Linked DNA regions of Homo sapiens: region 2 is linked to region 1. A link means that fine-mapping ties the variant in region 1 to the expression of a gene that starts in the linked region. Tissue or cell type: whole blood. Region 1 holds a variant in brackets; the other region holds the start of a gene. All regions are shown on one strand. Distances are between the middles of the regions.

What was found. PIP is the estimated chance that this variant, and not a neighbour inherited with it, causes the effect.
Region 2: it holds the start of TBC1D20, and the variant in region 1 is fine-mapped to the expression of TBC1D20 in whole blood (TOPMed, PIP 0.95).

Annotation. Positions count from the first base shown.
Region 1 is chr20:431,749-439,837 of GRCh38, reverse strand. It overlaps RBCK1 (RANBP2-type and C3HC4-type zinc finger containing 1), which reads right to left. Exons shown (of 12, transcript NM_031229.4): 12 at 7,699-8,089. TBC1D20 (TBC1 domain family member 20) reads left to right here. Exons shown (of 8, transcript NM_144628.4): 7 at 543-730; 8 at 997-4,358. The coding sequence ends at 1,252. Among named protein-coding and RNA genes, the nearest start is that of TBC1D20, 27 kb to the left of the region's middle. The variant A/G (reference allele first, on the strand shown) is at 3,526.
Region 2 is chr20:458,728-466,812 of GRCh38, reverse strand. TBC1D20 (TBC1 domain family member 20) reads left to right here and starts at 4,280. Exons shown (of 8, transcript NM_144628.4): 1 at 4,280-4,477. The coding sequence starts at 4,408. RefSeq lists silencers at 3,841-3,910, 4,191-4,680, 4,749-4,897.

The DNA of each region.
Region 1 (8,089 bases):
TGGAGGGTAGGGGCTTCAGTTAGTAGAAGGGTCTTGAGGGATGGGGTGGAGATGGGAATTCAGGGAAGTCCTTCAATGACCACTGGTCCCTTGAGCATCTGTGGATTTGTGGACCAACAGTCAGAAGGAAGATGCTTAAAGGGAGCAAGACTGTTCTTTCTACTGTTTTGAACCATTTCTTCTATGCTGGAGCTCCAGGAATCTCCCAATAATTCTCCTACTTTCTCCTAAAAGAATCTCCTTCATTTCTTTCAAGACTTAAAGGGACACCTGAGCAGCCCAGCATGCCCGAAGGACTTAGATTGTAACTGGTCAGCCTTTCATGTCATGTGGTGGAAGTTTGCAGGAAGGGCCAGAGAGTAGGAGTAGCACTGAGCGTATATATGTTATTACTTCCTTGATGGATACAAGAGTTTGCTCAACATTTGGGCTGAGTCCTGTCTGTTACCAGTTTAAATTCATCTGCAAGGATAATGGAGTGCAGGTGGCCCAGGCCCTGTGTGTCTGGCCTCTGACTGCAAGGCTTTACTACCTCCCCACAGATTGTGTTGTATCGCGAGCAGGAAGTCCTGGACTGTGACTGTGACATGGCCTCGGTCCACCACCTGTTGTCCCAGATCCCTCAGGACTTGCCCTATGAGACACTGATCAGCAGAGCAGGAGACCTTTTTGTTCAGTTTCCCCCATCCGAACTTGCTCGGGAGGCCGCTGCCCAACAGCAAGCTGAGAGGTGAGCAAGGCTGGGACACTGGTTGAATGGGGGTGGCTGTAAATGAGCAGAAGCGAGGGAAGGTTTGTGTCTGGTGGGATAGGGTTGGGGCATGTTTCCAGAGATCTGAGCTTAGGCCAGTGGAATCCCCACTGTAGACATATGGGTCTTTATCATAAAGAGCTTTCCCAGCAATGAAAGGCTCTGCCCGCAGCCTATGTGGTGTAGTTTTGCTTTCCTCCTCCTCTTTCATACCACTTCCTTCCTTCCGTCTCTTTCCCCTGCAGGACGGCAGCCTCTACTTTCAAAGACTTTGAGCTGGCATCAGCCCAGCAGAGGCCTGATATGGTGCTGCGGCAGCGGTTTCGGGGACTTCTGCGGCCTGAAGATCGAACAAAAGATGTCCTGACCAAGCCAAGGACCAACCGCTTTGTGAAATTGGCAGTGATGGGGCTGACAGTGGCACTTGGAGCGGCTGCACTGGCTGTGGTGAAAAGTGCCCTGGAATGGGCCCCTAAGTTTCAGCTGCAGCTGTTTCCCTGAAAGCCAGAGAAGACCTTCCTCTTACATCACATTAAGGTCTCACCCTTCCATGGAAGGATTGGGAGGGGTGGAATTTCCTTTATTAAAAGGGTTTCTGTCCAGAGTTTTTTATTCCTGCCACCCTGCCCTGCCCGTTTGTGTTTGCCTTTACTTCAGAGGCCAGTAGCAGAGCCTACCTGACACAGAGGGGACCTGGGGGCCTGGCACAGAATCTTATGCCTCTCCCAGTGGGCTTTTGGATGGGCTCTCTGCCACCTCCCTGGTGTTGGAGGAAGTGGGTTTCTGAAGCTTGCAGCTGCTTTTGCAACCTGCTGGGCCTGGGCTGCCCTAGTTACCGGGAACCTCCTAGTCACCCCATAGAAGGTGAACTGGAACATGGGATGCCCTCTTACTGCTCCTGCTTGCCTGCATCAGATGGACACAGAAGGAGGGGGCTGCTGCTGAAGGAGTCAGGCTTGGGATGGAGAGCAAGAGGCCAAAGGACTCGTCTGGGAGCATGATCGGCCCCTCTTACTAGCAGCTCCATCAGCTGATCAGAAATCAGAGACAGAAGGGAACTAGGTTACTCGTTAAATCCTACCTATTTTCAGCCTAGAAATCACATGGGCGTTTCCAGTCAAGTGGGAAGGAAGCTCATTTTTAGGGCCTAGACCTAGACTAGTTTTGCCTGCCTTTTTTTCCTCCCTGCTTTCTTCTACAAGCCACACAACATTGCTTATAAAAGGTACTTTTATTACTATTTTTAGAATATATACACCCCATATGTAAATTACCCTCACTTTTAAAGTAATAATAGTTCCTTCACGGAAAAAAAAATAGTTCTCATCAGAAGGATGAGCTTCTAAGATCCTGAATTTTACTTTCTACTTGATTAACATTTTCGCTTTAGCCAGAGTTGCTATTTGCAAACAGCTTTCCACTTCCAAAGTGCCACTTTCTGACCGGTTTTTCTTCCTGTTTTCCTCAAATCATCCTACTCCCAAATAGGCACCCACTCACTACCTTGGCGTCGTTTTTTGGGTCTGACTTGACTCGTCAACTGCTGGTCTCTCCCACCTGGTTGGAAATGTCGTTGGAAACTTGCAAAGACTCTCCAGACCTTAGGGAACAAGAGGCATCACTCAGTCCTTCTGGGACAGCTTCCCTGTAAGCAAAGCCAGGTTTGTTTTAGATTCACTCTGGCCTGAAAAAAAAAGTGCCTTTTGCTGCTTTAAAGAATTGGGGTATATGGTATGAAGCAGCCATGTACTTGTATTTTCCTGGTCTTTCCTGGGCACTCTTCTCTCTTGGCAGATGTTTTCTTAAAGTGAACACACCAGAAGCACTCTACCCCACCATATCCAGTCCTCTTTGCATGCCTGTTGTGTGCAGGGTGGAGGGTGTCCCACGTGCCAGAGCAGCTGGGAGCCCTGTCCGCTGAGTTACACTAAGCACTTTATTTTTATTTATTTTATTATTATTTTCTTTTTTCTGAGATGGAGTCTCACTCTGTTGCCCAGGCTGGAGTGCAGTGGTGCAGTCTCAGCTCACTGCAACCTCCGCCTCCCAAGTTCAGGCAATTCTCGCTGCCTCAGCCTCCCGAGTAGCTGGGACTACAGGCACCTGCTACCACGCCTGACTAATTTTTGTATTTTTAGTAGAGATGGGGTTTCGCCACGTTGGCCAGGCTGGTCTCGAACTCCTGACCTCAGGTGATCTGCCCGTCTCGTCCTCCCAAAGTGCTGGGATTACAGGTGTGAGCCACCACGCCCAGCCACCACTACGCACTTTAAAACCAAAAAAAGCTCAAAGGGATGGATCATTGTCCATGGCTCAGGAGCCCCACTGTGGGGTAAGTGTGATGTCGATGGATTAATTTAGACAGTGGTGTATTCATCAGGGCAAAGGAAATTCTTCCAGAGGTGATGATGCGGCAGATATTCCCAGTGCTCTCCCAAAGCAAGCTGGCCCTCTTGTCATCCTCTCAGTGGGCGGCACCAGCTGCCCCTCCTTCCACAAGTACTCAAGCCTGTTTGTAAATACTGAAGGAATTGATGGGGTTGAGGAAAGGAGGTGCATGTGACCAGGGTCCCAAGGCCACAGCTTTTCAGATCCTAGGAAGCAAGTGGCATTTGCTTGAGTTGTGGCCTCGGAAGGAGAATGTTTATCTGTTTTCTAACTTTGCTGACACCAGGATTCTCCCTGTCATTGAGAAGAAAGCATTATCTAATTACCTTCAGGTGGTTTACTTATTCTGTAAAGAATATGTGTAAATATTTTGTACAGAGCCCTGT[A/G]TCAAATAAACAGCCATATGTGGTTACTAATCACCTCTTCTGTCATTCCGTCCTTGGCCACCGCTCAGTGGGAATGGTCTCTGATCTGGATGCTCCCACCTTCCATGTCAGGCCCAGAACTGTGCCATGGTCTGTGGACTCCTGGTCAGCCTTGACTGGCTAGGAGACCTTGGGCAGTACCTACAGTCTTGCTGTTTCTGTTTCATCTGCAAGAATTATGACCCACACACTCCAGCTGCAGCCCAGGGCACTGTGATATTTTATACGTGTGTAGATGTTTTTGTCCACAGTTCCTGGTTCATCACTCCCATAACCCTTTGTTATAATGTTGGGACACTGCAGGCCTCAGAAAACGGAATCTCTGTCTGTGACCTTCTCCTGCCCCATTTCACTTGCTCAACACCAGACTTTAATCTGACTGTAGCTCATAAGACCCTCATTCCAGAGAGGGTGCTGCCCCATACCCGGAAGGAGGAACGCTGCACAGAGAGGCCAAGAAGCATCTGGACAGACAGGCCTTGCTGGGTTTAGACCTTATGCTTTTTGTCCAGTTTCATCTCAACACAGCTGCCATGCTTCAGCCATGCCTATCCAATGACGTCTCCATAAAAGGCCCAGGAACACGGGAGCTTCTGAAGAGCTGAACATGTGGAGGGAGGGGAACGAGAACTTGTCCATGTGCCAAGAGGGTGGCGCACCCCCACTCCATGGGGACAGAAGCTCCAGCATTTGCCCAGGACCCGTCCAGACCTCACCCTGTGTGTATCTTCATCTGGCTGTTTACTTATTTGTATCCTTTTCTAATAATGTTTGTAATAAACTGGTAAACATAAGTTTCCCTGAGTTCTGTGAGCCACTCTTGGCAAATCATGCCACCCAAAGAGGGTGGTCAGTCCAATGTTGTGGCAGAGGCGGCGGTCTTGTGGGACAGAGCCTTGAACCTGTGGATTCCATTTCCAGATACTATAGGTAGGGTGAGCACTGAATTGAATTGGAGGATACCCAGCTGATGTAGGCTGCAGAATTGCTTGCTTGCTTGGTGTCAGGGGAGAAATCCCCAACACATTTGGCCACAGATGTCTGTTGGTATTGAGAGAGCAGTGGAGGAAAACACAGTTTGAGTTCATGTTTTTTCCACTCTGGGTACTGTCACAGTCGACACAACTGGTGCGGGTCTGGGGTGCTCTTGGTGTGTTTCACACCCTGGTCTGGGGATCCTAGGAGCTGGCATTTGGTTTTGGATCCTAACCAGAGCTTGATGTGCCGCTTCTCCACATGCCCTTTCTGTCCACAGAGGAGCTGCTCAGCCTACTCTTGCCAAGCTTTCCAGTATCCTCCAGACACTGCTGGCTGCTGGGGAGCGCGCGCGCAGAGCAGTGCCCGGTGCAGGGCCTCCACCCTGGGGATGGGGCCATCGGGGAGACACTGTTGTCTGTGTTGTTTGTTTCCTTGGCTCAGAGGGGAGATGCGCAGGTTCCCGGGGCCAAGCCAGTGGCACTCAGCTCCTGCCACTGTGGGCCAGGGTCACACTGCCCTTTGATCTGACAGTCGTGGATTACGCAGGCTGCCCAGGGCACTGCGCTGCCTCTGAAAGCTCACACCAGAGCTGCACTCCAGGAGCAATCTATCCTGCAGCAAATTCAGGGCACTTTCATAGAAGGTGAGGGTGGAATGTGAAGGATGAATAGAATTATGATAATTGGAGAACTAAAGGAAGGGTATGTGTGGGATACTAAGAAATATTTGGTCTTTCTCCTGGGTTCCTAACACGGGTCTCCTACAACCCTTGGAATTTCGTGAGTGGTGAGTGTCTTTTGTTATTCATAACCCCTTTCCAGCCCATTTGAGTTCATGCTAATGAATTCGTTAGAGCAGGGCCCCTAGATTGCCTCGGGGTTGCTCCTGCACCAGAAAGACCAGGTGATTCGAGGGCGGAAACTTTCAATCCCAAGCAGTGACTCCTGGGAGTTGGAGTGACAGAGGTGGAGCACTTTACAAACTTGAGATTCAGGGCTGGGCGCGGTGGCTCACGCCTATAATTCCAGCACTTTGGGAGGCCGAGGCAGGTGGATCACCTGAGGTCAGGAGTTCGAGACCAGCCTGGCCAACATGGTGAAACCCCGTCTCTACTAAAATACAAAAATTAGCCGGGCATGATGGCGGGTGCCTGTAATCCCAGCTACTCGGGAGGCTGAGGCAGGAGAATTACTTGAACTTGGGAGGCGGAGGTTGCAGTGAGCCAAGACTGCACCCCTGCACTCCAGCCTGGGCAACAGAGCAAAACTCCGTCTCAAAAAAAAAACAAAAAAAACCCCAAAACTTGAGATTGCAGTGGCTGCCAGTCGCTCCCATCCCTAACCCTGTTCATCTCAAGCGTGGCTGTTCCTGCCCACACTGCATCCTTGAGGACACCACACCAGGAAGCGTCAGGGCAGGGTGATCTTCAGTTCTGAGTCACTCAGGCAAATTATTGAACCTGAGGGGGTGGAGTCATGGGAACCCCTGAATGTGTAGTTGGCCAGGAAGTGTGGGTAGCCCAGGAAGTGTGGGTAGCCCAGGAAGTGTGGGTAGCCTGGGCACCCCATCTGTGACTCCATCGGAAGTGTGGGACTGAGCCCTTTAATCTGTGGAACCTGACACTAGCCCCAGTTGGTGTCAGAGAGCTGGAAAAGTGGTGTCAGACAACACCACACAGTATGCAAGGCTGAGGGGAAACGCCAGTGTAAAAATAACACGTAACAAGTGTAGGTGGTTTGGGGCCAACAAAGCCCGGGAGGGCTCGGGTTTAGGGTCTGTGGAGCACTGGGGCCGGGCAGGATGGCTGTAGTGCTGTGGAGAGTTGAGGCTGCCTTAGGGATGATTTGGGGGTGAAGATAGGCCTTGACCTGAGCTGGGTTTGGAGGGAGAATTATTAGTGGCCTGATGGGGTCTTAGACTGAGGGTCGAGTGTGTTCCTTCCTTCCTGGCTGGGTGAGCATCTAAGTCACTGCCTCTCGGAGGCTCACGTCCATAACAGTAAAGCAGGGATGGTCTTGGCCCTCCTGGAGGGCTTCCTGCAAGGGTGTTGGTGAAATGTGTTTCTATTTGTGAAGCTGTGCTAGTGCTGTTGCCATTTTCATGAGCAGTTACCAATCAACAAACACTTGTAGCCAGCCCTGCACCGGGCCCACGATCACCCAGGGATGAAGTGGTGACCGAAAGCAGGAACAGGCCGGAGCCTTCACCAGCTAAGAGGTGAGACCCTCAGCTGGGGCTGAGACCCAGCCTGGCTGTATCTTCCTCCCCCTGCCACTGTCCCCTCTGGTGTTCTGCTGGTGGCCCCTGCTGCCAATTCCTGCTCCTCACGAGGGCCCCTGCTCCCTGGTCTTTTCTCCAGACTTCCTCATGGTTGGCACTTGGGATCACCAGGCTGCGGGCTCACCTTCAGCTGCCTGCATTTGAGCAGATTCCATGCCAGCCCCAAGCACTAGAGGAAGACACCAGTGAGCGCCGGCATAGGCCGACGGGCTACCCTCCGTGGCAGCTGCTCTTTATCTGAGCAATGGGCTTCCACTCACCTTCCCCTGCCCCTGTCCTGCCCCTGAGGAGAGAATGATGATCATTGTGTCACTCAAGTACCTTTGGGACCTCTTGCTGCTTCCTCTCGATGGTTTGAGTCCAAAGCCCTGGGGTTTGGTTTTCGTTCGGCCCTGGAGAGTTGGTGCTGGCCTCTCAAGTTCTGGGCCCCTGGCATGGGTGAGCCTTGGGAGGTGGAGGCACCTCCACCTGACCCTGCAGTAGAGGGTGCCCTGGGCCTGCTCGTCTTAAGACCTTTCACTTGCAGGTGCAAGGCGGGTGGAGCTGAGGCAGGAACCGGGGTTGGCCCTACACAGCTCCCTGCTCCTCCGCACCACTGCAGCATGGATGGGGCAGGCCGAGCAAAGCCACAGCCAGCACAGCCCTCTCTGCTGGTCTCGCCCTCACCTGTGATACGCCGCGCGTAGAGCCCCACTTCATCTTCCTCTTACGAGAAAAAGGATGGTGCAAGGGCACTGGAAAGGCCTCGGCGTGAGTCCTGGGGTGGTGAGGACTGTGGCAAACTGGAGGGTGTACACCCCATGAAGAGATTTGACATCTCTGTGACTCCATTCCCCCCAGGTAGAAGTGAGGACCTGGCATTACCAAGCTTTGACATTTTCAAGAGAAGCAGGGCATCTAGATTTTAATGTGGTAAACGATGTTGCCAATTTAAAAAGATGGGCAACCGATTTAAATTTCTAAAACAACACTGGGTGGACTGGTTACAGCCTGTGGTACCACAAGAGAACAATCTCTGCTTTTGTCTCATGCCCAGGCTCCTGAGAGACACCAGGCCAGGCCCTGGCAAGAGAGGGGAGAGTGGGTATGAGACAGCGTCTGCCTGAGCTGGTCCCATCCACACGCCTGCAGCCTGGCTCTCCTCTGCTTTTTCTGTTTCCTCCCAGTCAGTGGTTCTGCCTGGGCCTTTCTGCCTCCAGGGCCGGGGAGGCTGCCTGAGTGTGCCCCTCATCCTCTGCGACGGTTGACTGCCCTGAGCCAATGCAGG
Region 2 (8,085 bases), 27 kb before region 1:
TAGTTAGATTCCCAGAAGAAAGGAGAGAGAACAGGAAAAGAAACATTTGAAGAATTAAAGGCTGAGAACTTTTCAACATTAAGGACAGAGCAAACCACAAAATCCAAGAAGCTCAGAGAACATGCAGAATAAACTCATATATATATATATATATATATATATATATATATATATACACACACACATATAAAATTAGATATACTCGAAATGCTAAAACAAAAGAAAATCTTAAAGGCAGCAAGGAAAAAGAAGACATTGCATACAGAGGAAGCTAAGAATTATGGAGACGTCAGAAACTATGCAAGCTAGAAGCCAATGGAGTGACCTTATTGCTGATGCTGATAGGGGAAAAACACATACACACACAAAAACTGCTCACCCAAAATTCCGGAATCCTATACCCAAATGAAAGTGTCTTTCAAAATAAAGGAGAAATAAACCCTGTTTCAGATAAAGAAAAACGGAATTCATTGCTCCTTCTACAAGATACTAAAGGAAGTTTTTCAGGCAAAAGGAATATGATACCAGAAAAAAACCTGGGTCTACACAATGAAATTAAGAGCACTGGAAATTGAATGAAGGTAAGTACAATTAAAATCTTTTTTAAATTACCTTAGAAATAACTGAAGTGAGCTGGGCATGGGGCTCAAACTTGAAATCCCATCATTTTTGGGAGGCTGAAGCAGGAGGATCCCTTGAGGCCAGGAGTTGAAGGCCAGCCTGGGCAACAGCCCCAATACCTCCATCTCTACAATAGAGGGTCACAAAACTTTTTTTTTTTTTTTTTTTTTTTTATGTGGAGTCTCACTCTGTCACCCAGGCTGGAGTGCAATGGTGTGATCTCGGCTCACTGCAGTCTCCGCCTCCTGGGTTCAAGTGATTCTCCTGCCTCAGCCTCCTGAGTAGCTGGGATTACAGACCTGTGCCACTATGCCTGGCTAATTTTTGTATGTTTAGTAAAGACGGGGTTTCACCACTTTGGCCAAGCTGGTCTCGAACTCCTGGCCTCATGTAATCTGCCTGCCTCGGCCTCCCAAAGTGCTGGGATTACAGGTGTGAGCCACCACGTCCTGCCAATCTTTTTCTATAAAGGAGCAGATAGGCCGGGTGCGGTGGCTCATGCCTGTAATCCCAGGCACTTTGGGAGGCTGAGGCGGGCGGATCACCTGAGGTCGGGAGTTTGAGACCAGCCTGACCAACATGGCAAAACCCCGTCTCTACTAAAAATACAAAAAAATTAGCCAGGCATGGTGGCGGGCTAATCCCAGCTACTCGGGAGGCTGAGGCAGGAGAATCACGTGGACCTGGGAGGCGGAGGTTGCAGTGAGCTGCGATTGCGCCATTGCACTCCAGCCTGGGCAACAAGAGTGAAACTCCATCTCAAAAAAATACATACATACATACACACATAAAATAAATAAATACATAAAGGAGCAGATAATAAATATTTTAGGTTTTGTAGGCCATATCTCTGTTGCAACCACTGAACTCTACCGTTGCAGCATGAAAACAGCCATAGACAGTAGGTAAATGAATGAGCGTGACTCTGTTTCAGTAAAGGTTTATGGACACTGAGATTTAAATTCCATATAGTTTTAATGTGCTACAATTAAGTTGTGATTTTTCAACATTTATCAAGGTAAAAGCCATTCTTAGTTCATGAGCCGTGCAAAATCAGGCAGTAGAGTGGTTTTGGCTTGCAGGTGGGCAGACCATCTTTTTTGCTAACCGCCTGGTCTAAGGCAAGCATATTAGCAATGAATTGTGTACTTGCAGCACATGCAAAAATTTAAAATACTGATAAAATGAATCGTGGTATATTTCTAAGATGAAATTCTACTTAACAACAAAAACAAATGAACTATTGATTAATGCAACATGATTGCTTATAAAATAATTACGCTGAGTAAAAGAAGCCAGACAAAAAAGACTACATACTATATGATTCCGTCCATAAAAAATTCCAGAAAATGAAAACCAATCTATAGTGACAGGATGTAGATCAGTGGTTGTTTGCAAGTGGTTGGTGGGTAGAGGGGAGAAAGCAAGAGAAGGAAGGGATTTTAAAAAGTAAAATGTAGGACAACAGCAAGAAGAACAGGAGGGAAGAAATGGGAATTTATTGTAAGGTCTTTATATTATACATGAAGCGGGACATTTTTTGAAAGTAAATTCTGGCCCAAGCTTCACAACGACCACACAACTGTTTAGTCCTAGAGTTGTGGTGGTGGGAATGGGGTGGGGGTCACTGTTCCATCACTACCAAAAGCAAGAATCCAGCTGGCTGGATGACCAGCGCAGTAAACTGAGAAGGGAATAAATATCTCAAATTGCTTGAGCACGTTACTCTTAAACTGGGATGACTTAAATCTTCCTTCAGTGGGCACTAAGCATCTTTTAACCTCAATGATGATTTATTTCATTTTATTTATTTATTTTTTGAGATGGAGTCTCACTCCGTCTCTTAGGCTGGAGTGCAGTGGCGCAATCTTGGCTCACTGCAACCTCTGCCTCCCAGGTTCAAGCAATTCTCCTGCCTCAGCCTCCCAAGTAGCTGGGATTACAGGCAGGCACCACCATGCCCAGCTAATTTTTGTATTTTTAGTAGAGATGGGGTTTCACCATGTTGGTGAGGCTGGTCTTGAACTCCTGACCTCAAGTGATCTGCAGCCCTTCACCTCCCAAAGTGCTGGGATTACAGGCATGAGCCTCACAGATGATTTAGAACAAAGACTAGAAATGTTTTCAAACTTCTAGTATTAATAATTTTGCATTAAGGCATCTGTGTAAATGTGATACTTTAAATTCCTATAATGTTCAAGATAATTTCAAGAGCTTGGCACTGTGATTCACGCCTGTAATCCCAGAGCTTTGGGAGGCGAAGGCAGTTTGAGACCGGCCTGGGCAACATAGGGAGATTCCCCACCCCCTCTATAAAAACTAAAAAAACTAGCCAGGCATGGTAGTGTGTACCTACAGTCTCAGCTACTCGGGAGGCTGCAACAGGAGGCTAGCTTGAGCCCAGGAGCTTGAGGCTGCAGTGAGCTATGATCGCTATTGCACTCCAGTCTGGGTGATAGAGTGAGACTCTGTCTCAAAAAAAAAAAAAAGATAATTTTGAGAATTCTAACAGATTATTCTTGTACTAATTACAAATATGTATTTGAATAGATTTAGACTTTTGATTTTAAGATGAAATCTCGTTTGTATTGACACATTTGAAAGCACTCATGACTCAGTATTCTTATAAATGTATTACATTTACAAGAATTACACAAGGACTTGAAAGGCTTTGTTAGAAACCTGTGATACTTAGAAAAACGAATTGAATTTATAAATGCAGTTTCAAATGTTCAAAGGATTTTAATTAGCTTAGTTTATTAATGGGACCAAATAACTGATATAATTTACTAGATTTATGAATAGAACTGTAAAACTTGGCTGTGCGCGGTGGCTCACGCCTGTAATCCCAGCACTTTGAGAGGCTGAGGCGGGCGGATCACGAGGTCAGGAGTTTCATGGGCTGGAGGTCTCAGGATAATAAAGAACTGTTGTGGTTGGGGGTGGGAGGTGGAAGAGAGTCATCAAGCAACTGGAATTATGGGAACTTCAGCATGAAGACCTAGCACTAGAAATTCGGGAGGCCACAATCACAATATCAGGGATATAACCAAGGGAATGGATGTCTAATTGGAAAGAAAGGAATATCACTGAAGACGAGAAGGAAATCAGACCTGATAAGCCAGAGCGCTGCTTTAGATGAGTGGCCACTATTTCGCACAACTTAAGGGGGCACGGTTCACGTGAACGTCTACGTAAATGGCGCTCCCAGGCCTTGTGCAGTGCATAACCTGCGGACCCGTATGACATGAACCTGCTAGATCCCCAAGTACCCAAGAACTGATGACAGGAGTTCGTGTGGGGAGACGAGACAGGAGGTAAAAAAATAATCCTTGGTAAGCAAAAATTGGTCATAATTGTGGAGTATTTACTATATGCTTGGTGATGTTCTAAACACTCTCAATAACCTTGTGAGTTCAATATTTTTATTATCATCAATACTATTTTACAGATGAAAGAAGCAAAGGAAACGACAGCTGGTCTCGAGCACACTCGCTCAAGAGCGCCACACTCTACACCGTAGAGTCTACAGCGCAGACGAAGCCAACTCCTCAGAGCGCTCACCGCGCTCTTTCCGCAGCCTCCCCCGCCGCCGGCCGGGCGTAGCGCAGGGTCACGTGCCGGCGCGGGGCGGGGCCAGCGGGGCGCCTGCGCGCCTGCGCGCCGCTGGCCGACGGAGGGGAGCCTGCCGATGCCGAGCGGGTGCTACGTCCCGCGGTCGGAGCCGCGTCTTCTCCCGGCTCCGCCACCAGCCGGGGCTCGGGTGGGGGCCCGGGGCCCCGGGGCATGGCCCTCCGGAGTGCGCAGGGCGACGGCCCCACCTCCGGCCACTGGGACGGCGGCGCGGAGAAGGCAGGTACGGAAGCCGACCGGGGCGCCGGGAGCGGCCTGCGAGGGCGGCCCGGGGGGCAGGGGCAGCTGGCGGAGGCGGCGCCGGAGGGGCGCGGGCTGGGGACCCGGGGCTGCTGCGGGGTTCCGGGCGGCGAGAGGAACAGGCTGAGGGCCCAGGGCACGTCTGATGAGGAGAGGGCCTGGAACTGGGGGGGCTCGGGCGGGTGCCGAGCTGACCCGAGGGAGCCTGGCGGCAGAGTCGCGTCCCCAGGCAGAAGAGCGGGCGGCGGCTTCGCGCCCCGGCTTTCTTCCATCTGGAGAGGACTGGGACTCCTCGAGCGCGGAGGCCAGGCCCACCCCGTCCCAGGCGTCCGCCACGTCCGCAGGCTCCCGGAGCCGCCTCCCCGAGGGGTATCAGCTCTCCCGAACTGCATTCACCGTCGCCGGCTTGATTGACGCGCTGCCCGCGTACCGCCGATGTAATTACCACACAGTTCTTCCTTTAAGGTGCACAGTTCAGTGATTCTTAGAAAATTCACAAAGTTGTGCAGCCATCGCCGCTGTCTGATTCCAAAACGAAACCCTTACCCATTAATAGGCACTCCGCGTTCCCCGGTATTCACGACGCCTGGCAACCACGAATCGACTTTCTGTCTGTCTTCTGCCACCTATTTTAATGTTATTCAATTGTGTAAAAGCGGCCGGGCACCATGGCTCGCGCCTGTAATCCCAGCGCTTTGGGAGGCCATGGTTGGAGGATCGATTGAGGCCAGGATTTCGAGATCAGGCTGGGAAACACAGCGAGGCCTCATCTCTACAAAAAGTTTTTAAAAGTTAGTCGGGTGTGGAGGCTCGAGCCTGTGATCCCAACGACTCTGGAGGCTGAGGCAGGAGGATCGCTTGAGCCCAGGACTTAGAGGCTACTCTATGATTGCGCCACTGCACTCCGGCCTGGGTGACAGATGGAGACCCTATCTCAATAATAATAATAAGTAAATAATTGTATAAAAAGCGCTTCTATTTTTATACTCTTTTAGTTTGGACAATTTCTGTGAAATCATGTTTTTGTTGCACATGATGTTCTCAAATGTTTTTCATTCAATAAATACATGACAGTTAAAATTATGAATGTACACCGTGAACCAAGTTAAATAATCTTTTTTCCTTGAGGAAGACTAAGGTGACTTTCCCTATTTCCAGTCCTCTGATGGATGGTGCCCGTAACAGAGCCAAACACGTTATTAATACAACCCACATATTTTGAGGAAGCTCCTGGTATCTATATTTTATTTTATATTTTATTTGGGCTCATTTTCTGTTTTTCCCTTTTTCTTATGTTCTGATACTGAATGGAAGTGGAGCTCTGAACCCTTTGGCACCGTAACCCTTTAATTACTGGTGTTTGTGTGATGTCTGTCCTCATGGCATAACAGTCAATGCCCTAGGCAGCATGGGTCTTGTGACCTGTTGGCAGTGCAGCTGTGTATCTGTTGCAAGACTTTACCCCCTCTAGTTTCCTTGATTTTGCTTCTCTGGATGAATGGGACAAATTTAAAGATGAGGTTTTTTGTTTTTGTTATTGTTTTGTTTTTTAATCATATCAGAGTATTGTTGGCAAAGTTACTAATGCTAGAATCCCTCTTTTGTAGCGTTTATAGTCAGATTGGTTTACTTACTAGACTGTTTTTTTCCATTGTAGTGAAACATTCTTTCTTGGTACCTGCTTTTTCCAGGTAGTTAACAGAATCTTTGCTAATTTGGATACTGTTTTGTAGAAACTACTAATGAAGACCTCCAGAAACAGAGGCTAGTTTGTTTTATTTTGTGTTTAATAGAACTCTTACCCAGACTGAAATAAGGTTTTCCTCTCCTGCTGTGGTCTTCTGGTACAGACGTGGAGTTAAAGCATTTTTTTTTTTTTTTTTTGAGAGATGGGATCTTGCCCTGTCACCCGGGTTGGAGTGCAGTGTCACAGTCAAAGCTCACTGTCATCTCCCAACTCCTGGACTTAAGTGCTCCTCCCACCTCAGCCTCCTGAGTAGCTGGGACTACAGGCATAAATTTTCAAGTTAATTTCCAATGTCAATATCAGTAGTTGTGGGTGGGTGTAGGGGTATGTCTGTCTCCCTCCCTCCACACAAAACGGCCCCCCCCTTCCATTGTTTTAAGACTAGCATTTCTTAATTTGAGCTTAATTTCAGTTTAAAGACTGTAAAGCCTTTATGATAATGCAGGCTTAAACCAAATAATCAGTATGGAATTTTGTACGCTCACACGAGATTCCATTATATAAATTAGTTGATCCAAGTTAGTATTTGTTTTGGTGATATGAAAAAATATATGAAAAAACTTTTAGAGGAGGCATGGATAGTGGTCATCTTTAGTTGTTATCGTCCCTTCCCAGTGTATTAAGTGCCCTAATCCAGGTGATTTTGGACATGCCTATTACTCTGAGGGGGCAGAAATCTTTACCTGGATTCTGTAGCCAGAGTTGGGAGAAGTTTAAGCCAATAGTGGGTTGTGTCATCTTTATCTGAACCATTAAGAACCACAGTTCAGATGAAGTGTCCCATTGTTAAAATTAGCATTTTAGGGAGTTGAGTCTGATCTCCCTCCCTGACTACAAAACCCTGTTGCAGTTGTTGCTATACCTATTGCTGTGGTGCCCCTCAAATAAAGTCTGCTTTGCCCTCTTTATAAATAAATAAATAAATAAATAAAAATAAGCGTTCTAATGAAGAGTAGGCCAAAGTCATACCTATCTTCCTTTGTTGAATGAATTACTTTTCAGGCATCAGGGATTTATTTATAGCAGTCTTATATTTTGCAGCCAGCTGTAGGACGGTCATTCGTTCCATCATGGTTATGATAGCCAAGACCTCTACTATAAAGGAATTTGGAAGGTATCAGCTTTGGAATAATAGTGCACTATCTTGTAAGTGGGGCAATAAAGAAATTGGAGAAGAAAGGATTGAGGGAGATTAGAATGACATACATTCTACCTCTAGATGAAATGTGGGCTTTTATTCCAAGCCAGATACAGCGTTCTCAAGTCCAGAAATGTGTGTCCTGCTCTAAATCTATAAAGTTTATCTCGAAATACAATAGATAATAGGCATTTATTTTAATCTTTTCCTGAACATCCCAAGAATAGCTCTATGATGTTTCTCTTTCGGAAATAAACAGGATGTCTGTGAATTTGTCTTTCAGTGGAGACGCTGCTAACTCCCTCCCTGTGTCGTCTAGCAGTTGATCTCACTCTGTAATTCATACATCTTTAGCTCACTTGAATTTTCTGTTTCCTCTTCCCTTTTTATGTCACAGTGAGAGCCTATACATTTAGTTGGAATAAAGTATTTGTCAGAGTGGCACACGTGGGAGTGCTTTCTCCATCTGCCACTGACATTTAATCACTAGGCTGTGGGGTTGAGGAGGGTGGTGTTGGGGCCTGAAAAAAACAGCAGCCGAAATCCACGTTGGGACAGCATCCTCCTCTGGGAAACACCGGTAGTGTTAGAAACAGGCCAAAGAGTCTGCAGATCTGTTTAGAGAGTTCTGCAGTGAGCATCACCTTAACAGTATGGGAAAAATAATGTCATTTACTGCAAGCCAGTTTTTTCCAGAGGAACAATA